Linked DNA regions of Homo sapiens. The gene in region 1 interacts genetically with each later gene. Each region holds a gene or a part of one and is shown on either strand. Other genes may lie near its edges.

Region 1 (7,735 bases):
CCATTCTTGCTTTAAAATAAACAAAGTGGTTTTATAATGTTCTCTCATCCCAAAGAATGATAATCTGGGAAAACTTGAACAGAAATTCACTTTGATGTATTCCATCTTCCGTTTCCAAGGGCACCCATGAATGCACCTTCACATTCCTCTCAATTACAATGCAGTCTTTCTTCAAATTGATGAAACGTGCACCTCCTGAGAAAACTCTTTTGAAGGAGTCCCCTCATGCAAGTTTTTGATGCAGTCAGGTTCCTGAGCAGAAGAGTTTGGATATCAGATTCAGAAGTTTCTGCCGGAAGTTCAGTTTGTCTCCAAATCTCCTGAGTTGAGTAGCACACTCGACTTCCAGCTCTGAGAAGGAAAGCAAAACATGGACATGAACATTGATGATATTACAGACTGTAACCAGCAAAACCTAATACGCCCACACTAGTGACAAATTGAGTATCCCAGGAAGCATTTCTCTTAACTTTGGCTTTATGTGCACCTGTTTTCCAAATGTGACACACACACACACTTACACACATTGTGACTCACCGAAAGCAATCGTTAAGGTAAGAATAAAGACATTTACTTTGAGTTTTTAAAAAACGCATCCTGGATGAGGCAAGTGTTACCTTACTTTCAAATATGTCAAATACCACAAAGAGTAGCATTATCATTCTTTGGGATGTGAGAACATTGTAAAACCACTTTGTTTATTTTAAAAGCAATGCTACAAAGAGTAGCATAAGTCACCAGCCTTAGATGATGTCATCTTTTTCTCTTCATTTAAGGTTGGCTGGGAAACAGAAGTCAAGTTCTGTGTGGCTTTCAAGTAGGATTTGATTTTCAAATGGCAATAATTTACAGCTTAGGTTATACTCTCATTATATAGGCAAATCTAGAGGTATTCTTTTTCTCGTTAAAAAACGCTGATATTTTTTCATAAAAGACTCATAAAATCTTATTCTAAAATTAAGTCCACATTCTCTAAAATAATTTAAACATTTCTATTTTAATGTAAACCCACTTCTTCCTATAACCCCATTATGTACCAATCCATTGCCTTTATGGAAATGAGAGGAGCAGAAAATAAGCAATGTTTAATTCACATGTTTACTACTTTTTGGAATTGAGTTATTCTAACTGAATATTAAGAAAAATGATGCTTATAATTTCCAAGTACACTTTTTTTCAGTAAGTGCAGTTAACACTATACTGACTATAATATCGTATCTATACTGACTATAATTTCAATTTTCTTGAATATTTCAAAGAGCAGCTTGAGGTCTTTCGGGTACACTTCATGATTACAAACATTAAAAAATCATGATTACAAATTAAAATCTGGTCTATTTTATAAATCGACCCTGAAAATACCGTATTTAGGCTCAAAATAAATCAAAGCTGTCAATATATAGTAAAGCAAAATCTTAAACCTATATTTCAACCAATTTCTCTCTACAAGAAGTGAGTGAAATCTTTCCTAACTCCTACACCAAGAGACCTAATAAATCCCTTAAGGTGTTATTCTTTATGGGCTACAAGATCAAATATGTTGGGAAGTATTTACATAGACATGTTGTCTACAGAGATTGAGATATATTAATATACAGTTCTAAAAGAAAAACCAAATACCATTCAGCGTCCGACACTGGAAGCCCTGAATTCTAAGTGGAAAAGTTATCCCTTTCACCAAAAATGTAGAAAACAAGGCAGAAAATACTTCCCGGTCATTTCCTTAATTTTTTAAAAATTGCATTACACACCTATAAATGTATTAGTATCAATCAAATCAAGTTTAAGAGGGACTTTGTGCTGCTTCCTGTTCTTGGGAATTAAGTCGGACCAGAAAGTGCTATGCATAAGTAAGATCCTTCAGAAAGAAACAAGGTCAGAATCCTAAGACATCACAAAAGGTAGACAAAGCTTTTTCCATCCCACACAAGCGCCAGAGACAGCAGCCTGTTACCAACTTAGGCATGGTCACATTTGCAATGCACCACTTCCTTCGCACGCCCCAGGAGCTCTATAAAATGAAAGTAACTTAAAAGGTGGGGGGGGCGTATAATCGTCTGATGCAACAGCAGTATGGCCCACACAGACTTCGGGCTCTGGGCAGTGACTGGGTTCTCTGTTTAGATTTAGAAAAAGCATGGGGCCGGGGCGCTGGCCTGAAAACTTACGATGGAGCTGTATGTATCGGGGTGGGGAGTGCGAATGAATGAATGAAAAAAAGGAGCGGACTAACTCCTATTCTCCTATCCCCACCTCCCACAATATCGATTATTTAAATGTTACAAGATTTTCTAGGCTCCTGAACACAGGGGCCCTTGTGGGGCCGTCTCTGGAAGCGCTGGGAGTCCAGGCGGTCCCCGGGGCTCTCTCCTGCCCCTTCTGCCGCGACAATGACTTTCTCCTAGAGACAGCCGCCTACACTTGCACTTGTTCCTCGTGGCCCCGGGGAAGGGCAAGTGGCGAGGAGGAAAGAGAGGAGGAAAGGAGCTTTTTGCCCCTGGTGAAACGCAGCTGCATCCCAATCGCAAATCCGGCTTGGTCCCTCGCCGTACCCGCCGTACCCGCCGGTCCTGGGGAAAAACCCCGAAGAACTTTCTGGAGGCGCCCCTAAGGCTCGCGCCAGGGCACAGACCTGGCCCGACCTTGACCCCCGTGCAGTCTGTGCTTGAGCCCCGGCGAGCTGAGCCCGCCCCAGCCGAGACCTCGACCCCGGCCCCGACCCCGCCCGGCCTGGGTCTTCGCTGGCCCCAGCGGGTCGGTACCTGCTGGAGCCCGCGCGGGGCTCGGTTGAGCGTTCTTGCGCGCCTTCTTCCCAGGCATCTCCGCCGGTGCCGCCGCCCACTCAGCTACAGAGCCCGGGAACCTCAGCCTCCAACTGGAGCACCTCGGACAGCTGCAGGACGCGAGCTGAACACGAACAGTCCTGCAGGCAGGGATGCTGGGATCGGGTGTCCGGACGCGCGGAGATGCCAACTACACACGGTGAGTGCCCGGGAAACTCTGAGATCCCCGCGCCAGAGACCACGCTTTTGTCCAGTGAGAACTTCCCTGGTGACGTAGGGAAACTAGACGCCCGGCCCGCCCCTGTCCCCGCCCCTGTCCCCGCCCCGCAGACGGCGTTATGGGAGCGGACGCGGGACGCGGGCGGGGAAGTACCCCGCTGAGCGCGACCTGCCCGGACACGCTCCCGACCCGCGGCGGCGCCGACCCGCGGCGGGGGGCGCAGAGCGCTCGGCCCCGAAATTACTTCCTTACAAAACGAGGTGGGAGGAGAAGGGGGTCGGCTTTGACCATCTGCAAACGCTGGACGTCGTCAGCGGCAGTGGTGGCGGGAGCTGGGAGTGGCGGGAGCTGGGAGTGGCGGGAGGGGAAGGGTTTAACCAGGAGGAACGTTGTGGGTGGGGAGAGACCAGAGGCCTTGGCAATTAGAGACTTGGGTAAACAAGCCCAGAAAAGAGATTGGAAAAGGAAACTTTTCGAACTTGAAGAGTATGGGCAGTAACAGGGAAGGGAAATGAGAAGAACCTTAATCACCGCAGAGGAGATGCCAGAGGCCCTGTGAGAAAGCTCCGGGTCCCAGGAAGTCACTGCAAACAGAAGCCCTGGTGCCAGCCAGAAAGAACATCGTGTTTGAGTTGGGAAGGGATTTGTGTGTGTCCTTCCAGATAGGTCGATATCGCCCATTGTGGATGTTTAGCAAAAACGAGTGGATCGTTATCATATGGAAAACGTTCAAATCTTTTGTGGGAGGGCTGAGCTACCTGGGAACGTGAAATTATTTGCATAATGTTTGGCGAGGCCATGAGTAATTCTACTATTATGAAGAGGAGTAATTAGGAGTGGTTAACGGTTACTGAGAGCCGCTTCATGCTAAGGACTTTGACATGCATTTTCTCATTCCGTCCTCAGAACAACCGTTGCTACTTTACGGGTGCAGAAACTGAGGTTTGTAGAAAATTGCCCAAGTTCACTTAGGCAGAGAGCACTGCCCTGATTCCGAACCAGGCAGGCCCACAGAGAGCAAGAGCTCTTACCCACTGTAGCCTTCCCAGCAATCAGTTTCTTAGAAAATGTGTGTTTTCGCCGAACGCGGTGGCTCACGCCTGTAATCCCAGCTCTTTGGGAGGCCGAGGCGGGTGGTTCGTTTGAGGCCAGGAGTTCGAGACCAGCCTTGCCAATATGGTGAAACCCCGTCTCTACTGAAATACAAAAGATTAGCCGGCCTTGGTGGTGCACGCCTGTCGTCCCAGTTGCTTGGGCGGCTGAGGCACGAGAATCGCTTGAACCTGGGAGGCGGAGGTTGCAGTGAGCCGAGATCGCGCCACTGCATTCCAGCCTGGGTGACGGAATAAGACTCTGTCTCAAAAAAGAAAAAGAAAAAAAAAGCGTGTTTTCATATTAGCTGTGCTGTTTAATGAAAAGATTGCAAATTCGTTGCATGGGCTCCCTAGAAGTGCTTAGTTTGGTTTACAGTATTGGCCTTCAAAATGTATTGTAAAAATTTGAATTGATTACCAACATTTTAAACATTGAGGGATTGCATGAAAAACCCAGATTCCAGCATCTCTTGGAAAACCAGAATCTCTGACAACGTGGGATCCATTTTCCAAAAGTGCAAACTAGGTTTGAAGTGTGGTCGAAGCCACACCCTTTAGAGGAACCTAGGGTGCTCCTGTTCACCACACTCCCCGCTGTTTGCTTTTCCCATTTACATTATCTGGCCTCAGTAGGCATTTGAGGTTGTTTATTTATCTTAAATCATTCAGTCAACACAAACCAGCAAGTATTTATTTATGGCTTGGTCCTGCTGAAGGTATGGACAACAATATAAGCATGGAACAAAACTGCTCTTGAGTTTAAACAACATAGTTTCGAGGCTGATGTTGGCTGTTTTTGAATGGGGTATATACAAACGAGTAAAAGTGGACAGAATTTAGGAATCATCACAAGACGCAGGAAGCACACTGGAGATGCTGCCTTGAAATCTATTATCCCCAAGTGGTAATTCAAAACCACTCCAGGCTCATTTTGACTTACCTAATACATAAGGAACACCGTTAACTTTTTGGTTGCATAAATTATTAAATTTCTGTCGTTCAAATACGCACCCTGAAATGCAGAGAATATACTCAACAACCACCAAAAAAAAAAAAAAAAAGTGAATCACAACATTGTTTACCTATAAAAGGTATGTTAATCCCATCCTCTAACATTTTCATTAGAAAAGAATTGGTCATGTGACTCACACTGGCTACAAACCTTAGGCAACTCTGTTTTTTAGGGAATTGCAAATTCAGCTTGCAAGGAGGAAAAGAGCGGAAAGAAGTCGGGCGAGGTGGGTTTTGGACATGGGTCAGATTCAGCTGGTTTATAGAGGACTTTTAAAGATTTAGGATTTGAGATGGTCCATAAACTCTTTGGCAGATCTAACATTCTCTAAAGAGAATTGGCCAGGCATAGTGGCTCACGCCTGTAATCTCAGCACTGTGGGAGGTGGAGGCTGGGGGATCGCTTGAGTCCAGGAGTTGATGACCAACCTGGGTAACATGGTGAAACCCTGTCTCTGCAGATAATACAAGTATAAGCTGTAGTGTCAGCTACTCAGGAGGCTGAGGTGGGAGGATTGCTTGAGCCAAGGAGGAGGAGGTTGCAGTGAGCTATGATCGAGCCACTCCACTCTAGCTTGAGCGACAAAGGGAGAACCCTGTCTCAAAAAAAAAAAAAAAAGCTAGAAGCAGAGTGAATAGCTTCTTTTAACTGTATATCCTCTGGAAAAGGGAGGTATCATTTAATGTTGGGCTTGCAACAAATATAAACATGGAGATATTTGACCAAACGAAATAATTAATAAAAATGTATCATGAAGCGTTAGAATTCCCTACTATTTTTTTTTAAGTAGGACTGGTGAAAATGACATTTTAAAAAACTATTAGATAATCCTTTCTCGTGAAACAAGTTCAAAAATGACAGTGCACATCTGATCATTTCGATGTCAGTGTTTAAAAAAAGAAAAATGTATACGTATCTATATATATATATGAACCACAATGACAAAACAAAATAAGCATGATTAGTAATAGAATAGTCATTCATATATTTCTTGCAGAAAATAGGATTTGACAGTTAAACAAGAGGACATGAGATATAAATGAGGCATATGTAGAGTCAGCCTGGGATAAAATATACAGGCTGTAGATCGATTGTGTTTGTTCTAATAAAAGTGTTTGTTGTTGTTGTTTTCCTGTATAGCATGTTTGTTAACAGGAAATTAGCCAGAGTATTTGATGGATTATATCTCTCACGCCTGTAATCCCAGCGCTTTGGGAAGCCGAGGCAGGCAGATCACTTGAGGTCAGGAGTCTGCCAGCCTGGCCAATGTGGCAAAACCCCATCTCTACTAAAAATACAAAAATTAGCCGGGCGTGGTGGTGCATGCCTGTAATCCTGTAATCCCAGCTACTCAGGAGGCTGGACTGAGACAGGAGAATCGCTTGAACCCAGGCGGAGGTTGCAGTGAGCCGAGATGGCGCCACTGCACTCCAGCCTGGGCAACAGAGTGAGACTCTGTCTCAAAAAAAAAAAAAAAATCTCTCTTTAAGACAGACACTGAGGCCAGGCACAGTGTGGCTCACGCTTGTAATCCCAGCACTTTGGGAGGCCGAGGTGGGTGGATCACCTGAGGTCAGGAGTTCGAGACCAGCCTGACCAACATGGTGAAAACCCATCTCTACTAAAAATACAAAATTAGCTGGGCGTGGTGGCACATGCCTGTTATCCCAGCTACTCAGGAGGCTGAGGCAGGAGAACTGTTTGAACACGGGAGGTGGAGGTTGCAGTGAGCCGAGATTACACCATTGCACTCCAGCCTAGGCAACAAGAGCAAAACTCATCTCAAAAAAAAAAAAAAAAAAAAAACAGGCCGGGCGCGGTGGCTCACGTCTGTAATCCCAGCACTTTCAGAGGCCAAGGCGGGCAGATCATGAGGTCAGGAGATCGAGACCATCCTGGCTAACACGGTGAAACCCCGTCTCTACTAAAAATACAAAAAATTATCCGGGCATGGTGGCGGGTGCCTGTAGTCCCAGCTACTCAGGAGGCTGAGGCAGGAGAATGGCGTGAACCCGGGAGGCGGAGCTTGCAGTGACCTGAGATCGCGCCACTGCACTCCAGCCTGGGCGACAGAGCGAGACTCCGTCTCAAAAAAAAACAAAAAAAAAAGACAGACATTGAGCTAGGCCAAGGGAAGGCAATGCTCCCTGCCCCTATGCAATCTTTGGTGGAGAGACCAGTAACTCAGAAATTTCATGTGCATAAGAATCACTTGAGTATCTTCTTAAAATGTGCATCTGATTCTGGAGCTCTGCTTGGACCTGAGATTCTGCATCTTTCGTGAACTGTCACGATGTTGATGCTTCTGCTCTGTGGACAACTTTGAGTAGCAAGGCCAGAGGGTGATATAGAGAGTAACCCAGCAGGTGCAATAAGATGTGTGTCAGTCCTGAGCCAGGGAAATTAGAGCAGATTACAGGGCTGCCTGGGAGAGCAATCAGTAGGAAAGGGCATCAACATAGGGACCTGAGGCTCGAATAGAAGTCGGCCAAGCAATCACACCAACCAAAGGGAAGAAGGACATTCTCGGCAGAGACTGACAGCAGTGTGAGGTCAGGAGTGGTGAGAAGTGATGGGGAGAAAAGCCACTGGAGGAGTTTGGATATTATCGTGGGGGCAATAGGGA
Region 2 (7,027 bases), on another chromosome or scaffold:
TAACTTGCCCAATACCACACAGCTAGCAAATGGCAGAACCTGGAGGCCAACCCAAGCAGTGTGGCTGCAGAGGCTGAGCTCATAACCATTGTTACATTGCAAGTACACTACTTGCATCTATAGGGGATTCATAAAATCTTTCTTATCTCAACAAAAGTGAGGTGGCTTAATAAAAATAAATGTGTGCGGGTGCCACATTAAGTGCATATATGTGATGTTTCTCTCTCTCTTTTTTTTTTAAGACACAGTCTCACTCCGTCACCCAGGCTGGAGTGCAATGGCGTGATCTCGGCTCCCTGCAACCTCTGCCTCGTGGGTTCAAGTGATTCTCCTGCCTCAGCCTCCTGCGTAGCTGGGACTACTGGCATGTGCCACCACACTCAGCTAATTTTTGTATTTTTTTTTTTTTAGTAGAGATGGGGTTTCACCATGTTGGCCAGGATGGTCTTGAACTCCTGACCTCACATGATCCGCCTGCCTCAGCCTCCCAAAGTGCTGGGATTATAGGCATGCGCCATCACCCCCAGCCTTTTCTGAGTATTTTTAATCTTTGGTTGGTTGAATCCACAGACATGGAACTCATGAATACTGAGGGCTGATTGTATATATTTGAATACCAGTAATTCTTACTACTGCAATTCTATGTTCCAGCCACAGCAACCTTTTAAAGGTGTTCCTCAAACAGGCCAAGCTCATCACTGCACCTCAAGACCTTTGCCTTAGAATGCAGATCATTCAGGTCTCAGCTCCAATGCCACCTCAGGCCTCCCAAACCAACCTAAGAAAAATGCCCTTCCTCCATTCCTCTCTGCACATCCAGAGACAAAGTCTTGAGATGGTACAAGAGACACTCTGATTGGCTATGAGACTGAAATTTTAATTTGGAATAACCAGACTTTTAAGAAAAGCCCAGGAAAGCTATAGGATCTGGCTGAAATGTCAACATGAGGAAGAAAAAGAACATTCAACAAAAAATAGTCAAAAGCAGTTTTTTGGGGAAAAATTATTTTCTGTTGTAAATAAGTGAGTAAAATAGTGGCTCCACCTTCCGAACACTTTTTTTTTTTGAGACAGGGTCTCACTCTGTCGTCCAGGCTAGAGTGCAGCAGCATAAACATTGCTCACTGCAGCCTTGATCTGTGCTCAAGCAATCCTCCTGCCTCAGCCTCCCATGTAGCTGAGATTACAGGCATGCACTAACATGCCTGGATAATTATTAAATTTTTTGTAGAGATGAGGTCTTACTATGTTGCCCAGACTGGTCTTGAACTCCTGGGCTCAAGCGATCTTCCCACCTGGGCTTCTCAAAGTGCTGCAATTACAGGCGTGAGCCTCCGCATCCGGCCTTGAACATTCTTATCACGTTGTTTTCGCTACCGCCCTAATTACCAGTAAAAACTATGCAAGTGTATTCTTTATGTCTTTAGTGTCAGTATTCATCCATCAGGATATAAGCCCCAAAGTCTAAGAACTTTGTCATATTCACTATTGTATCACTGATACTTTTTTTTTTTTTTTTTTTTTGAGACAGGGTCTTGCTTTGTCGCCCAGTCTGGAGTGCAGTGGTGCGATCTCAATTCACTGCAGCCTCAACCTCCTGGGCTCAAGCAAGCCTCCCAACTCAGCTTCCTGAGTAGCTAGAACTAAAACCGTACACCACCACCCCCAGGTATTTATTTTTTATTTTTTGTAGAGACGAGTTTCACCATGCTGTTCAGGGTGGGCTAAAATTCCTGGGCTCAGGTAATCCACCCACCTCAATCTCCCAAAGTGCTTGGATTACAGGTGTGAGCCACTGTGCCCAGCCTGAAATTTAAAATGGTATCCAGTACAGCATAAATGCTCAGATTTTTATGGAATGAACAAACCACAGCTACACAGATCAATTACCTTTGATATTATTTGTATGTACTCCATGGATTTGACCAATGTTTTCTAATTTTTATTTTTGTAGAGGTGGTAGGTCTTGCTATGCTGCCCAATCTAGTCTCCAACTCCTGGCCTCAAATGATCCTCCTGCCTCTGCTTTCCAAAGTGTTGGGCATGAGCCACTGCATCCAGCCTCTGACCAAAGTTTTAACCTGAGCTGTATCCTGCTTTTTGTTTGTTTTTTTTTGTTTGTTTTTGTACAAATGGGGTTGCCCAGGCTGGTATCAAACTCCTGGCCTCAAGCAATACTCTCACCTTGGCCTCCCAAATCACTGGGATTACAGGTGTGAGTTACTGCACCCAGCCCTGCTTTCCTTACAGAGCATATGAGGCATCTATTTCCTCCACCTACTAACCAAGGCAGGAGGCAAATGGCTCTTACTGACAACTGGGTTCACCAGGACACTAAGCAAAATATTTATTAAGAGAAACCTCAAGTAGGGGTGGTAGCTCACGCCAGTAATCCCAGCACTTTGGAAGGACAGGGCAGATTGCTTGAGCCCAGGAATTCCAGACTAGCCTGGACAACATGGCAAAACCCTGTCTCTAAACATTTTTTTAAATGAGCTGGGAATGCTGGTGTTGCACCTGTGGGAGGATGAGGTGGGAGGATTACCTGAGCCTGAGGAGGTCAAGGCTGTAGGGAGCTGTGACTGCGCCACTGTACTCCAGACTGGGGGACAGAGTGAGACCCTGTCTCAACAGAAAAGAAAAGAGAAGAGAAGAGAAGACGAGAAGAGAAGAGAAGAGAAAAGAAAAACCTCTCTGGCTGACTAGCTCTTTTGCTCATTCCTGTAATCCCAGCACTTTGGGAGGCCTACGCAGGAAGATCACTGGAGCTCAGGAGTGGAGACCAGTCTGGGCAATATGGTGAGATCCCATCTCTATAAAAAATTAGCCAGACCTAGGGTGGTATGTGCCTGTAGTCTCAGCCACTCAGGAGGCTAAAGTGGGAGGATCGCTTGATCCTGGGAGATCAAGACTGCAGTGAGCCATGATCATGCCACTGCACTGCAGCTTGTGTGAGAGTGAGACCTCCTCTCAAAACAAACAAAAACAAAAACAAAACCTCTCTTTTTACTAGAAAGATGCCTAGTATCCTCTTTCTACCTTCCAGCAGTCTAAAATTCCCCTCCTCTAATCTACTGAAAAATGACTGATCAAAATTTACCCTGAGCTGCCACTTCCTTTTAGAAGTTTTAATTAACATACATCACCTCCAGATTATGGTAATTGTTCAATCATTTATTTTCATAGAACATGAAAGATTCTACCATTTACATGTATCACAAAGTTTTACAGTTACTGATTAGTCCACTATTCCCTCTCCCATTCCTACCCATGACCAACACAGACACCCTTGAAATTTGTTTCCTCCCTAGGCTGTGTCGAATGCAACCATCTCTCTAGGACAGTACACTGAAGGAGGGGAAGGCCGCTCTAAGGCCCATGTCCCTCTTAGATATACGTTTCAAGAGGGCAATTTCTATCAACCCAATGAAAAATTGACAAGTTCTTAATAAGGTTCTCATTTATGTTTAACTAGACATATTAAAAAGAATTCTCTGGTTATGCACCTTAACCACATTCACCGATGATATTCAAATCTTCGTATCACATCCATATTCCTTGCCAAGCATGATCCTGACTCTGTGCTTTCACACTGGCTGTTCCCTCTACAAGGAACTCTTCTAAATATGTACATGACTTGCTCCCTTGCTTCATTCTGGTTTTACCTCAACTATTATCTCCTCAGAGGCATTCCCTCACTATCTTATCAAAAATAAGCCAGCTGTGATGGCTCATGCCTGTAATCCCAGCACTTTGGGAGGCTGAGGTGGGAGGATCACTTAAGGTCAGGAGTTCAACACTAGCCTGGCCAACATGGTGAAACCCCATCTCTACTAAAAATGCAAAAATCAGCCGAGCATGGTGGTGGTCACCGGTAATCCCAACTACTCGGGAGGCTGAGGAAGGAGAATTGCTTGAACCCAGGAGGTGGAGGTTGCAGTGAGCCAAGATCGTGCCACTGCACTCCAGCCTGGGCAAGAGAGTGAGACCCCGTCTCAAAAATAAAAATAAAAATAATAATAATAATAAGAGCACCGAGCACTCTCTCTTTTACCCTGGTTGTTTTTATTCATAGTACCTATCACAACTTGACTTACAGTATGTATTTCACTGTTTATGTTTATTGTCTCTCTTCCCAACAAAAATGTAAATTATACAAGGGCAGGAGCTGTCTGCCTAGTTCATCATTATCTAGTTAGAATTAGGAAATACTAAATTCTCGTTCAATGAATAAATGTATTTCCCATAGACTTAATTACTCCTGCTATGGTTACGGTTTCAATGAACAAGATGTCACTGGCACAAATGCCCCTCATCCATGGCCAATCTCACAAGCAGATTATAAATATACAGAAAATATAATAACTTTTATTTATGTGTAAAAGCCAAAAATAGATTGAGGGCTTGAGAGTATCTCTGCCCACATATTTTTCAAATATTCCTCAGTAACTATAGAACTTTATTTCAAACCCCTTGCCTAGCACTGAAGGCCCTTTGTAATCTGACCCGACTTCCCTTTCACTCCTATCCCTCTTGTTGTTTCCCTGTATTCTGGGTTTCTATGCTGCAACAATCCCAAGGAACACTATTCATATAGAATATCTAACACAGCATGCAGCCCTGCTTACACTGCAGCCACACTGATCTAGCCTAGATTCCTACCAAATTTTCTCCTAATTACCAATACAAAAAGCTTACCCATTATTCAAAATCCAGCTCCAACACTTTATTCAAAATCCAGCTCCAACACTTTCTCCATAAAATTTTCACTGATCATCCCACCAGAAATTATTTCCTCAATCTGTGAGGGAGCATAGAGCAGTTGGTAACACATCTGAAACTTTTGCCTTATCATAAATCATTAGTACCTTTTACTCTCCTTTAGCATATGGTAAATTCCCAAAGAGCATGGACATTGTTCTACATATCTTTGCATTCTCCATGGTACCTTGCATATGGATGTCAATAAAGTTATTTTAATAATGAATAACTTTTACAGGCACTTTTTATTGTTGTTGTTTTATAGAGACAGGGTCTTGCTACATTGCCCAGGTCGGCCTCAGGTAATCCTCTCACCTCATCCTCCCAAAGTGCTGGGATTACAGGCATGAGCCACCATGCCCGGCCTCTATAGACACTCTGAATCACTGCTTTACATTTCCATTTTCTTTCCTCTTAAAGGATAAAAAAAAGTCCACTGAGAAAAGTAGTATGAATCATATTTCAGTTTAAAGTTTGATTTATCTTGTGGTTCGGTTATATACTACTGCCTTCTTGTGCCTCCATCTCACTAGATCCAATCAGAAGGAGAGAGAATGAAAGTTAAGAGTTAGTTATTAGGGAGATGACGACCTCTGGCATGCTAGTGAGCCAACAAGTAACCAGCTAAGTAGGAGTGTGTACGCACACATGTATGAGAGAGAGAGACAAGAGACAGAGAGAGAGAATACTAGTTATCAGGAGAAGACCCAGCTGGAAAGATCTCAAATAATTTGAATCATCAAAGGTATCTGAACAGGAAAGTGATATGGTGAGAACTGCATTTTGATCTAGAGCTCAGATCAGAGCTAAGAGATAAAAATAGTGAAATCATGGGAGTTAAGACTGTCCCAGAAAAAAATATACAAAGATAGAAAAGGGCTGAAGATAAAATCCTGAGAAATAATTCTATTGGGGACAGGGGAGGGAAGTCAGTGAAAAACAAACGTGATTTGAGAGAGAGAAGACCAAGGAGGGAATGTCATAAAAACCAAAAGAGAAGCAGAGGAAATGAGCAATAATACCAGAAAAGAGGATAAATATTATCAGAGAAGAATCTCATTTGATAATCAGGAGGTTGCTAATACTTTTATGACTGACAGGTTCTATACAATTGGGTGGGAGAGAAGAGTAAGCCATATCATTAAGTTAAAGGGCAAAGAATTATAAAGGCAGCAAATGGGGGCTGCTTTTCCAAGAACTGTGACAGTGAGAAACAGAAGTTTGAGGCAGAGGCAGAGTACAAGTTTGTATGAGGAGGCAGAGTGCAGTGGCTCACGCCTGTAATCCCAACACTTTGGGTGGCCGAGGTAGGCGGATCGCTTGAGGTCAGGAGTTTGAGACCATCCTGGCCAATATGGTAAAATCCCGTCTCTACTAAAAATACAAAAATAAGCTGGGTGTGGTGGCGTGTGCCTGTAATCCCAGCTACTCAGGAGGTTGAGGCAGGAGAATTGCTTGAACCTGGGAGGCGGAGGTTGCAGTGAGTGGAGATCCACACCACTGCACTCCAGCCTGGGCAACAAGAGCGAAACTCCATCTCCAAAAAAAAGAAAAGTTTATATGACGCGACATATGAACTTTCTTATAGGCATAGGAGAAAAAAGGGAAACTGAAAAAAAAAAAAAAAAAGTAAGAGGGGACATACCACCAAGTCCTGGGGGGAAGATGAGGACTGAAAAAGAACAAGCAGAATGAGACAATTTGGGAGGTAGCATGGAACAGAGAAGAACATAGGAGAAACAAGAAAAATGTTTGGTATCGACCAAGGAAGTTAAGGGCACTTCAAATAGCTGGGTAAAGTAATGTACTAAGAATTAAGAGGGGTGAGGCTCAGCAAGAAAAGGTTTAAACAATTGCTGTTTGGGGTGGAACAATAAACTGGAAATGAAAAAAATGAGCACTAAGGGCCCAGATGATAATTGCAAAAGAAAAGGAACAATCACAATTACATGTTCAAAGTAATCTAAAACAGAAGATAAAATTATAATATCAGATCCCTACAAATGTTCTACAGACTCACTCTGTAAGGAAAAACAACAAAGATAAAGTAGTTACATGGAAAGGTTTTCAGAGATACAAAACCCCTAAGCAGTTAACTGTATATGTCAAAATGTGCTACACAAATCTTTACATAGCTGAAAGACTTCTAAGATCCAGCAATAGTCCACTTGCTTTAAACAGACAATAAAATTATTAGAGTCAAATTCCAATATTAAAAAAGAAAAGCAGCTAGACATGGTGGCTCACGCCTATAATCCCAGCACTT

The links. A genetic interaction does not mean that the proteins touch.
Region 2: of PMAIP1 (region 1) and CUL5, a change in one rescues a mutant of the other (synthetic rescue), as found in Homo sapiens cells (one study listed by BioGRID).

The regions. Positions count from the first base shown.
Region 1 is NC_000018.10:59,895,263-59,902,997, reverse strand, and holds the start of PMAIP1 (phorbol-12-myristate-13-acetate-induced protein 1), read right to left. Parts: upstream 3,003-7,735; 5' UTR 2,821-3,002; coding exon 2,763-2,820; coding exon of another isoform or gene 2,633-2,762; intron 2,571-2,632; coding exon of another isoform or gene 2,416-2,570; exon of another isoform or gene 352-2,415; coding exon 245-351; coding exon of another isoform or gene 150-244; 3' UTR 1-149. UniProt on the Homo sapiens protein: Promotes activation of caspases and apoptosis. Promotes mitochondrial membrane changes and efflux of apoptogenic proteins from the mitochondria. Contributes to p53/TP53-dependent apoptosis after radiation exposure. Promotes proteasomal degradation of MCL1.
Region 2 is NC_000011.10:108,011,887-108,018,913, reverse strand, and holds part of CUL5 (cullin-5), read right to left. Parts: intron 1-7,027. UniProt on the Homo sapiens protein: Core component of multiple cullin-5-RING E3 ubiquitin-protein ligase complexes (ECS complexes, also named CRL5 complexes), which mediate the ubiquitination and subsequent proteasomal degradation of target proteins.